3 linked regions of the Homo sapiens genome follow. Changing the gene in region 3 together with the main gene of any one other region gives a genetic interaction. Each region holds a gene or a part of one and is shown on either strand. Other genes may lie near its edges. The genes, in order: GATB, NDUFB2 and PSMC6.

Evidence for each region.
Region 1: changes in PSMC6 (region 3) and GATB together harm fitness more than expected from each alone (negative genetic interaction), as found in Homo sapiens cells (one large-scale study listed by BioGRID).
Region 2: changes in PSMC6 (region 3) and NDUFB2 together harm fitness more than expected from each alone (negative genetic interaction), as found in Homo sapiens cells (one large-scale study listed by BioGRID).

The regions. Positions count from the first base shown.
Region 1 is NC_000004.12:151,701,925-151,705,577, forward strand, and holds part of GATB (glutamyl-tRNA(Gln) amidotransferase subunit B, mitochondrial isoform 1 precursor), read right to left. Parts: intron 3,346-3,653; coding exon 3,261-3,345; intron 1,972-3,260; coding exon 1,927-1,971; intron 1-1,926. UniProt on the Homo sapiens protein: Allows the formation of correctly charged Gln-tRNA(Gln) through the transamidation of misacylated Glu-tRNA(Gln) in the mitochondria. The reaction takes place in the presence of glutamine and ATP through an activated gamma-phospho-Glu-tRNA(Gln).
Region 2 is NC_000007.14:140,699,674-140,703,326, reverse strand, and holds part of NDUFB2 (NADH dehydrogenase [ubiquinone] 1 beta subcomplex subunit 2, mitochondrial precursor), read right to left. Parts: intron 462-3,653; coding exon 317-461; intron 1-316. UniProt on the Homo sapiens protein: Accessory subunit of the mitochondrial membrane respiratory chain NADH dehydrogenase (Complex I), that is believed not to be involved in catalysis. Complex I functions in the transfer of electrons from NADH to the respiratory chain.
Region 3 is NC_000014.9:52,720,620-52,724,272, reverse strand, and holds part of PSMC6 (26S proteasome regulatory subunit 10B), read right to left. Parts: intron 3,413-3,653; coding exon 3,292-3,412; intron 3,164-3,291; coding exon 3,083-3,163; intron 469-3,082; coding exon of another isoform or gene 446-468; exon of another isoform or gene 399-445; intron 309-398; coding exon 237-308; exon of another isoform or gene 233-236; intron 1-232. UniProt on the Homo sapiens protein: Component of the 26S proteasome, a multiprotein complex involved in the ATP-dependent degradation of ubiquitinated proteins.

The sequences.
Region 1 (3,653 bases), on a different chromosome or scaffold from region 3:
TGGTACAGCCTACTACAGATAGGCCATGTGGAGTAGCCTACTGCTCCAAGGCTACTGAGTGTCCCAAATCCTGCAGGCAACTGTAACACAATGGCATTGGTGTATCTAAGCATGTCTGAACAAGAAAGGGACGGTAAAAATGCCATATGACAATCTTATGGGACTCCTGTAGCATACGTAATCCACTGTTGACAGAAACATCCATATGTATGCAGGACTATGTCTTCATAAAGACACAGGCTGGAAAAAACAGGACCAAATGAGAGCAATTTGCTTATTAGAAGGAAAGATGACTTTCCCCCCATTTCAACATTTCTACTATTTTTAGCAGCATTTACATAAATAAAAAATGAAAGGAAAAAAATTTACCCTTGAGAAATAGAAGAAATGAATAGATTTTGCCTAAACAAAATGTGACAGCTGGAGAAGAGGGAGGGAGGGATGAAGAGGTGGAGCACAGGGCATGCAGTGGAACTTCTCAGTGTGACACGATGGTGGATGCATGTCATTGTGCATATGTCAAAACCCACGCAATGTACCACACAAACAAGGAACCCTAGTGTAAACCATGGACTCTAGCCAATAAGGAAGTGTGATTGGTTTCATCATTGTAACAAATGAGCATCTTGCATTACTGTGGCACATTAACAGGAGACTCTGGGGGGAGAGTGGGGAGCGGGAGTATGTGAGAACTCTGGACGTTCCATTCAATTTTATTGTAAAGCTAAAACTGCTCTAAAAAATGAAGGGAATTAATTTTTTTAAGTGTCAAAGCTGCACCATTGCATGTAATCTTATGAAACAAGATGTCCCTCCCTCTGTTCTCGTCCAGCACTAATGGTTACTCTCTGCCCATTTTTGTCAAAGGGCTTATGTAGAAAAAGCAGGGTATTCAGAAGAAGTGGTGGTTTGGAGGGAATGGATTCGAAGCACACGCTACCCATCGGCTCACTGCCAGATCTCTTCTGTGAGTTAGTCTGGCTTCTGAGGGCAAGAGGAAACCCAGGGGAAGCTTCCTGCAGCTCACTATCATTTGAGGCATCATGCTGAAGCCACGGGCGGATGGAAAGCCGGACTCCACACTCAGGGGAAGGCGCACCAACAGGGGAGGGAGCAACACTCAGGAATAAAGTGGGCCCCTGGGAGAACAGACTCACCCGGGAAGTTCACGGTTAATTAAAATAATTTTGACTCTAGCAGACAGACAATGGGAGTTCTTGGGGTGAGGTTCATGCTAAGCGTTTATGAGTTTCTTCTTTCCCACATAAACATGCAAATTTTGATCCTCATTGATAATAGCTACATTTGCATCTTTCTGCCCTTCACAAAGGAAAGGTGGCCGATCTCACAACTTTGTTGCTTAAAACTTCAACCTGCTAAACTCAATGAGAAAAAAATAAAAGTTTCAATTATCTTATGCCTGTTCTTAGCATTTGCTTTATTTGTGGGTCTCATATTAAGTAGTTCAACTTAATTTATCATGAAATAGCATCATATGAGGTTCAAGGGAACTACCATCAACATACGCTATCAACATCTCTTTTCTCATTTCTTCTCAAGGAGCTTCATTCAGCGTATTACTGAATCAGTTACTGAACATTAGAATAAGAACAGCCTAGGCCCCAACCTCTACAGCCATCCTCCTAGCTCAACTATGACAACTTTGACACAGCAGTGGATGAACAAGTTCTTCCAAAAGCTGAATCAGTCAAACAAGGCACCAGATCTGAGGCTACCAAATCAAGAAACTAGTACTTCTCTCGGTATGCATATCAAAGAGGAAGTCTAGATGTCCCATCATGTTACAACAATGACAAAAAGTGGTTTCTAAAAATTGTTCAGGATCATTATGTTGAACTTTAAATGAACTTGAAATACGCCCCAGCCCCCGATATATAGCGGTATTTTGCCATAAGGAGTAACCACCTGTAGTCCTGTTTTCCTTCTTTGTCTCTCATTGACATGGTGCACCTGCAATAGTTAAATAAGAAAACATTAAACATTGAAAGCAGCACTGGCCAGCCTATATGTGGGGAAGGGCTCCCCTACCAATAAGGGGCACAGGCAAAATCAAACTCTGTGGACTTCCATGGGGAAACCTTAAATGAATACATTCAAAAAACAATCATAAAGAAAGCGAAATGTACAGAATGATCTTTTTTTTTTTTTTTTAAAGGAAATGACTTCAATGTAGCCATCTTTCAGCCAGCTCAAACTCGGCTTTTGAGCTTTTTTCAGTATTCTGCTTTAAGTATACAATGCTCAAAATTCTGAGTGAGAAAATTAAGGCCCAAGTTATCTAAACAAAAATAAGGCATCTCTACAACCAGGTCTTCACTCTGTTCCGCCTCTAGCTTCAGCTGGGAAAGATCTGATAGATTAAGGAAGTAAAAATTCTTGCCACAAGGCAGGTAAGCTGGAAGCAGAGAAGGAAAGGGCCTAAAACGAAGCCCTTGGGCACAGTCTGGGTCACTTCAAGCCTCCTGGCAGCCCTAGGGTATATTATATCCCTATAGGGTACAGTACTTTTCTTTTTTTTTTTTCTTTGAGACGGAGTCTTGCTCTGTCGCCCAGGCTGGAGTGCAGTGGCACTATCTCGGCTCACTGCAAGCTCCGCCTCCTGGGTTTACGCCATTCTCCTGCCTCAGCCTCCCGAGTAGCTGGCACTACAGGCGCCCGCCACCACACCTGGCTAATTTTTTGTATTTTTAGTAGAGACGGGGTTTCACCATGTTAGCCAGGATGGTCTCGATCTCCTGACCTCGTGATCCGCCCGCCTCGGCCTCCCAAAGTGCTGGGATTACAGGCGTGAGCCACGGCGCCTGGCCTTCTTTTTTGTTTTTGAGAGGAGTCTCGCTCTGTCGCCCAGGCTGGAGTGCGGTGGCAACATCTCAGCTCACTGCAAGCGCCGCCTCCCGGGTTCATGCCATTCTCCTGCCTCAGCCTCCCAAATAGCTGGGACTACAGGCACCCATCACCATGCCCGGCTAATTTTTTGTATTTTTTTAGTAGAGACAGGATTTCACCATGTTAGCCAGGATGGTCTCGATCTCCCGACCTCGTGATCTGCCCATTGCCTCCCAAAGTGCTGGGATTACAGGCATGAAGGGTACAGTACTTTTCTAATTGTACTAATGAGGAAACCTAAAAGTGGAGACGCTACGTGCCTCCTTCAAGGTCACATGGCTGGTCAGTGGCTGAGCCCAGCCCTCTCGCACCACCCCCGGCTGTGGTCAGGACGCTCAGCAATGCGAACTCACCCCAGCTTGTGATGAAATGAGCGTGTTTCGTTCAGAATTTCACCTCCATTCTCAAGTTCATTGATTTGCCTCTGAATTTCATAGTCTAGGAAAAACACACTAATTTAGCATCATATTTTGATTATACCTTTCATCCAGTCAAGCAATAATTAGAAACAACCTTTCTCAATCTCTAAGTTAAAAAAAAAAAAAATCAAGAAGATTGTTTATAATAATCCTTCCCTTACACACTATATTTCCTTCTCACTGCCATCGTAGAATATTGGTGTTGGAAAGGGCCTTAGGAAGGCAGGCTCACTCCGTGTTGAGACAATTCAGGTTCAGAGAGATTAAGCAACCCCATGCAGATGACATGACTTGGCAGAAGTGGGGCTGGGCCCAATATCTCGGTCT
Region 2 (3,653 bases), on a different chromosome or scaffold from region 3:
CTCCTGCCTGGTGACAGAGTGAAACTGTGTCTCAAAAAAAAAAAAAAAAAAAATGAGCTTTTAGTCTCCCTAAGATGGCAACCTAACAGAAACCATAAGAAACGGACCACCTAAATATACATCCTCGTGTAAAAAAAGGTGAGAAGATAACATGTTTCATTAAATAACAGGATTCTTGTATATACATATGGAAAAAGTGGTGGCAAAGGGCGATGTCCAGACAGAAAAATGGTCTACAACAGAAAAATAAACAAGCTATTAATACATCCTCCCTCCCCCACCCAAAAAACGACAAGTGCTCTTCTCCTGCACTTACCAGCACCTCTTCTGAGTCATGCCAAAAGCGCCAGAGAATCCAGAACCACATGAGTCCGCTGAAGAACTCGCTCTGGAACACCTGGGATCTGGTCAGCTGGGGGAACTGTCTATACCGGGGCTCAATGTGCACACCACCACCGGCACTGCAAGACAAAACAACATGGCAGACAGCGTGCTACATTCTCAAAGCGTTAAGTCATCCAAAACTCCTCTGAGTTACATCCTAGAACCAACGCTAATGTTTCTCATCTCCACTGAAATATAGACAGAAGTTCACAATCCCTTGAAATACTCACTTTTTACTAAGCTTGCTTCATGTGTAGCAGCAAAAACTGACCAAAACTGACAAGAGGCTAATTTTGGTTTTCAATTAGTGAAGATTCATTATTTTGCACTAGAAATTTGAATGTGTTGATTCTGGGGTGCTAGCCCCAAAGGTTTTAGTTAAGGGACTGTGAACTTGTTAGCAGGTCACTAACTTACTCAGAAAAATAAATTAATTTTGCTTTGTTTAGCTATCTATTTGAGGCAAATTATGTCCTCTGCCTATTACAATCTTTATTAAAAGACAACCATATGGGAGAGAGGACTCGCAAATCCTATTAAATATGCTAATGGCTCTGAACAAAGAACTTTAAACAGTAAGTTTGAATACGTGTTTCTTTTTTCTTCTTTTCATTCAGACACTTGACAAGTTGTGGCACAGAGTCCATAAGAGTTATAGTCAATTTATTCAGTTGGAGTATAAATATTATACGTTGCATCTAATTTAAATTATTTGCACCTACTGGGGCTATTCCTAAAACCTATTCATCAGCCATATATATGCTAATAAACAGAAGTGGATAAAAAATTTTTAAGAGAATTCCTATATAAAATATGTTTACCAATTTCATCTAGATAAGAATCAGCTTGTAAACCATATTCTCTTTTATGTAGCACAGAAATTCGTACCTGTAGGAAAAGTGCATTAAAATATCTTGTCTTCATAATGCACAGATTCGTGAACAGTAACAGGGCAGTGGTTCTTGATACATGTTAGCTAGGACTGTTTGTTTTCTTTGTTTGTTTGTTTGCGAGAGTCTCACTCTGTCACCCAGGCTGGAGTGCAATGGAACAATCTTGGCTCACTGCAACCTCCGCCTCCTGGGTTCAAGCGATCCTCCTGCCTCAGCCTCCCAAGTAGCTGGGACTACAGGTGTACGCCACCATGCCCAGCTAATTTTTGTTTTTTTTTTAGTAGAGACGGGGTTTCCCCGTGTTGGCCAGACTGGTCTCGAACTCCTGACCTTAGGTGATCCACCCACCTTGGCCTCCCAAAGTGCTGGGATTACAGGCGTGAGCCACGTGCCCGGCTGTTTTGTTTGTTTTTTTAAAGATAGGCTCTGTCGCCCAGGCTAGAGTGCAGTGGCGTGACCTTAGCTCAAGCGATCCTTCTGCTGACTGAGCACCTCCTGGGCTCAAGCAATCCTCCTGCCTCAGCCTCCCTCCCAAGTAGCTGGGATTACATACAAGTGTACACCCCCAGACCTGGCTAATTTTTATATTTTTTTTGTAGAGACAGGGTTTCCCTATGTTGCCAGGCTGGCAGACTGTTTTTATCCTCCCCCACTCTAAAAGATGACTGGTAGTTATTGAGTGTTTACCATGTGCCAGATACCACACTAAGCATTTTATAAGTTTTAATTCATTTAATTTTCATAATGTTATGATAAGGCCTGTAATTATTAATGATTTACCAGTGAGATGCTGTGTGATGGCAAAGCCTAAGCTGTTGCCTACAGACACACACCATTAACAATTTTCTCCTTTTATTAATCAAAGACATAACTTTTAACTAGAATTCCAACCAGCATGATAAAACCAATGTTACCATATTGAAATGATAAATTCCATTTTTTTTTCTAAATAGTCATCCAAAATTTAACACTTTTATTTGGAATGCTCTATTTAAGGTATTAATAACTAATTATGAATAAGGTGATTTTTAGTTTTTGCAGATGTGTGTATATATGTACTTTTTTAAGTATCATGTTTAAAAGGTCCTACCAAATATCGCCACTTTACAACTTGAATGACGTAGCATACTGTTTCCGTAATGTCCTCATATACCAATTATATTATTCATTCAGGATCTAGCTGTGCATATAGATATTACATTATGTAAATAAACCATGCAGGATCATTCAATATAGTATAACAAGAGCTTTTTTTTTTTTTTGAGACGGAGTCGCACTCTGTCACCCAGGCTGGAGTGCAGTGACACAATCTTGGCTCACTGCAACCTCTGCCTCCCAGTTCGAGCAATTCTCCTGCCTCAGCCTCCCGAGTAGCTGGGATTACAGGCATGTGCCACCATGCCCGGCTAATTTTTGTATTTTTAGTAGATACAGGGATTCGTTATGTTGGCCAGGCTGGTCTCGAACTCCTGACCTCAGGTGATCCGCCTGCCCTGACCTCCCAAAGTGCTGGGATTATAGGCGTGAGCCACACTGTGCCCGGCCAAGAGCCTTCTTCTTTGATAGCTTTTTGATACAATCTAGGTATAAGTGCCCAGCAGTAAAACTGATTAAAACAAGATTTGAAGGCCGGACACGGTGGCTTATGCCTGTAATCCCAGCATTTTGGGAGGCCGAGGCAGGCGGATCACCTGAGGTCGGGAGTTCGAGACCACCCTGACCAACGTGGAAAAACCTCGTCTCTACTAAAAATACAAAATTAGCTGGGCATGGTGGTACATGCATGTAATCCCAGCTACTCAGGAGGCTGAAGCAGGAGAATCACTTGAACCTGGGAGACAGAGGATGTGGTGAGCTGAGATCGTGCCATTGCACTCCAGCCTGGGCAACAAGAGCGAAATTCTGTATCAAAAAAACAAAAAAGATCTGAGTAATGCCGATGCCAGCATTATAGTTCAAACCCATCTTAGCAGCTCCCCACGCTTCGTTATTGCTAGAGTGACATGTTGTTTTAATCATAACCTGAAGTAGGGACTGCAAAATGGAAACCTTTTGGAACAAAGATTTGAAAGTCTGCAATTATATCACAGGAACAATGACAAGGATTGCCATGATTAAGGAATGCAAAGACTCAACACCTAATTCACAATGTTATGTTCCAAACCAGGTTGTGAACTGCATTGTGGCAAACTAGATACCCTGAACAACCCTCCAAATTAACAACTCTGCTGCTAGATGAGATTTTTAAGATTTTTACAAACATCACTGACCAGGCACAAAAGGAAGGAATCCACCAAGAGCAAAATTCAAGTAAAAACAAGGCCTGGAAGCTAAGCAATCAATCACTGAAGCTGCCTTCACCGGGAGCCCTTGAAC
Region 3 (3,653 bases):
TGAGATCTAACCTCCCTTTCCTACAGCACCTACCTCAATGGTGCACCCTCATATTAGCTTTCCCTCTTTCCATCTCACTTGCCCTGCTTCTCCTATTTCCTGGAATCGATTCCTAAAAGAACAGCATGAACCCAAATCCTTGCAAAGTCTATGCTCCGCTTTCAGATAAACTCAAAACAGTTTCAGCAAATTTTAAAAATCAAAATCAATAGTAAAACTGTACTTTAAACCCTTACCTGCTTCAGTACAAACATTTCTCAGATCTGCTCCATTAAAGCCATCCGAAAGCTTCACAATTGCTTCATAATCTGTTTAGAAAAAATACTGGAAATTAGTTTTAAAAATTAGACCTTTACTTGATTTATGCCCACATCGAAAATTTAAACTGAAGAGCTTACTTTGAGTTTGATCAGCTAGACATCAGCTCTGTTAACTTTCCACAATATTAATATCCAAAAACTAAGACTTCTGTTAAATAAACCAGCACCAAGAAGAATTAGACACACCCCTGAAACTTTAAAAACAGGAAATATCACCAAAATCTCAAAATATCTTAATCTATTTTTATACAGTGAAATAGCTATGCACATGTGAACTCCAGATACCTGTTAAGCTGTGACTCTTATCAAAACTGTAATCAAATCTTGGATTTGAATAAACCTATAACACTCAAAACCAATTATAACAATGGAATTTACTTTGTTTACTTTAATCATACAAGCCAAATATAAAGTATAGCAAAACTGAAATGTAATCATACATAATTGTATCACATGGAATTTTTAAATGCTACAGCATGCATTAGCTAGCTTCTCTGGTTTCTGTGCAAGATTCAAGTGGTGAAGTATCAGATCTATGGTAGCAGTAATAAAGTGAGTTCTCCATCCACCCACATAACAGACATGAATCAAAGAGCTATAGGATTGGGGTAGCAACAATGGATCTGATACAGAATAGGAAGAGAAGTAAGACAGCACAGGCTACTACAGTTTGAATAACTTTGATGATGCACCGTTTGGTCAGGCAATATAGGGCATGTCGTTCTCTATTTGAAATCACACATATATTCATGAATTGTCTTTAATCAGGTTTAAGTTCATTGTAAGCTTCCTGAGAGCAAGAATTCCCAAGGCTAGCACAGTATCTGGCATCTAGCAAGAGCTCAGTATTTGTGGAAGAAACCTATACATTGACATCCTTTGTTCAGTTCGGTCTTTCCAGCTCAAAACTCTCTAACAGGGGCAATGAAGATAGTGAAATTCAACAATCAGCTATTTGTCATTATTCTGGACCATTAACTTCTAAAGAGTTTTTAAGGCTGCCTGGAAATTATACTAGATTTCCCTAGTCTGGAGGTCAGCAAACTTTTTATGTAAAGGGCCAGAGAGTAAATACTGTATGCTTTGCAAGCCATATGGTTTCTGTTGTAACTATTCAACTCAGCTATTCCAGTAGGAAAGCAGCCATAGACAACAGATAAATGAGCATGCTTGGGTTACAACAAAACTTTGTGTGTTTCCAAAAACACAGGGCAGGCAGAATTTGGTTCACAAGCCATGTTTTACTGGCCTGCACCCTAGTCCAATCCCTCACTTCCATAGATAATGACTTTATACCTTCTCCTTTGTCCTCAAATCTCTAAGAACACTTCCCTATCTTCATTCTGAACGTGCATTCTACTTCACTGAGAAAACAGAAGCATTCAGAAAAAAACACTTCCACAAGTTCCTGCACTATCTAAGAACCTGTCATCATAAGCATCTATGTACTCTGCCTTTCCTCCAGTCTCATAAAAGTACACATATATATAGGGCCAATCCCTCTTCAAGGAAAGAACATTGCCAATTTCTCTTTCTCCTAGGTCATTCCCAGTAGCATTATTAAAAAAAAAAAAAAAAGGGCAGGGGGGTCATAAACTCTTCCATCTTATAGAAAACTCTGCCAACTCCTCATCGGCATTCCCCTTCTACTTCTTCTGCCCCCTCTGTAGAACTCTTAAAAGAAATGTCTAAACTCAATGCCTCTCCTCCCAATCTCTCTGAAACCCATCTGAAATAGGCTTTCACCTCCACCACTCCCAAGAAGCTACTTTTGACAAGATTACCAATGACCTCCATATAGTTAAATCCAAAGGTCTACTCTGAGAACTCTTTATCTGACCTATTGTCAGCATTTAACAGGAATCAATTTAAAAAACAAACAAACAAACAACCAGGCCGGGTGCAGTGGCACACGCCTGTTATCCCAGAACTTTGGGTGGCCGAGGTGGGCAGATTGCTTGAGCCCAGTAGTTCAAGATCAGCCTGGGCAACATGGTGAAACCCCATCCCTACAAAAAAACAAGCCAGGGTTGGTGGTGTGTGCCTGTAGTCCCAGCTAATCAGGAGGCTGAGGTGTGAGGATCATTTGAACTTGGGAGGCAGAAGTTGCAGTGAGCTGGGATCACACCATTGCACTCCAGCCTGGGCAAGAGTGAGACCCTGTCTCTAAAAAATAAATTACCTTCTTGGTAAGGCCTTCCCTGTGCTAATCCTCCCTGTCATTTAAAAACATATCCTCATGCCTGGTCCTGGCACTTCCCTAATTTCCTATCCCCCTTTTCTTTTTTTTTCCCCTGAAACAGCGTCTTGCCAAACTGGAGTGCAGTCACATGATCATAGCTCCCTGCAACCTCAAACTCCTGGCCTCAAGCGGTCCTTCTGCCTCGGCCTCCAAAACCATTAGGATTACAGGAGTGAGCCACCATGCCCGCCCCCCACTTTCTTGCTTTATTTTTCTCCATAGCACTTATCATCATCTATTATACTTTGTTTTACTAACTTTATCTGTTTTTTCCTAACAAGAATATAAGTTCTCTAATGGCAGAAATTTGTCTGTTTTGTTCCTTGCTATATTGTCAGCCCTTACAAAACACTTACAATGGTTCCTAGCTTATAGTAGATGCTCAATAACTATTTGCTGAATTTAAAACCACCACATTTGCTGAATTTAAAACCAGATTTAGGAAACTATCAGTAATTTCTAAAAGTATTTTTCTTCATTTACCAAATGTAAATACATATAAAATAGATGACTTCCTTACCTATTTCACCATGCTTTGTAATGGGACCTGCATGGATTTTCAGTATGTCTAATCTTGCTTGTTCATTTGGCAAATCAATATCTGAAAATAAAAAATTATTTTATAGTCCAGTTTTATCTTTTTTAAAATACAGTGGAAGGTGAAGTGAAGTATGGAAAAAGAAATGGGCACAAAGGGAAATGGACAGTAGGTAAAGAATCTTAACTCACGTATTTTTCTATCTAATCTTCCTGGACGCAGCAAAGCAGGATCCAGTGTATCTGGTCTGTTTGTAGCCATGATCATTTTAACTCTATGCAGAGTATCAAATCCATCCATTTGATTCAGTAACTAAGAATATTAAGAATCAGATTTTACAAAAATTCTAACCATTAAAAAAAATAGCACACACCTTTTATATGTCTAATGCCATGAAATGTATTGTCTACAGATAGATATGTTCTATCTTCAGAATGGTCATTTGATAGAATTCTTTTTCTCTCTCTTATATAAAGGGATATACTTTCTAGCCTCAAAGTTCTAAGCTAGATTATGTACCTTTTAATAGCTATGTATCTTTCTATAGCTACCA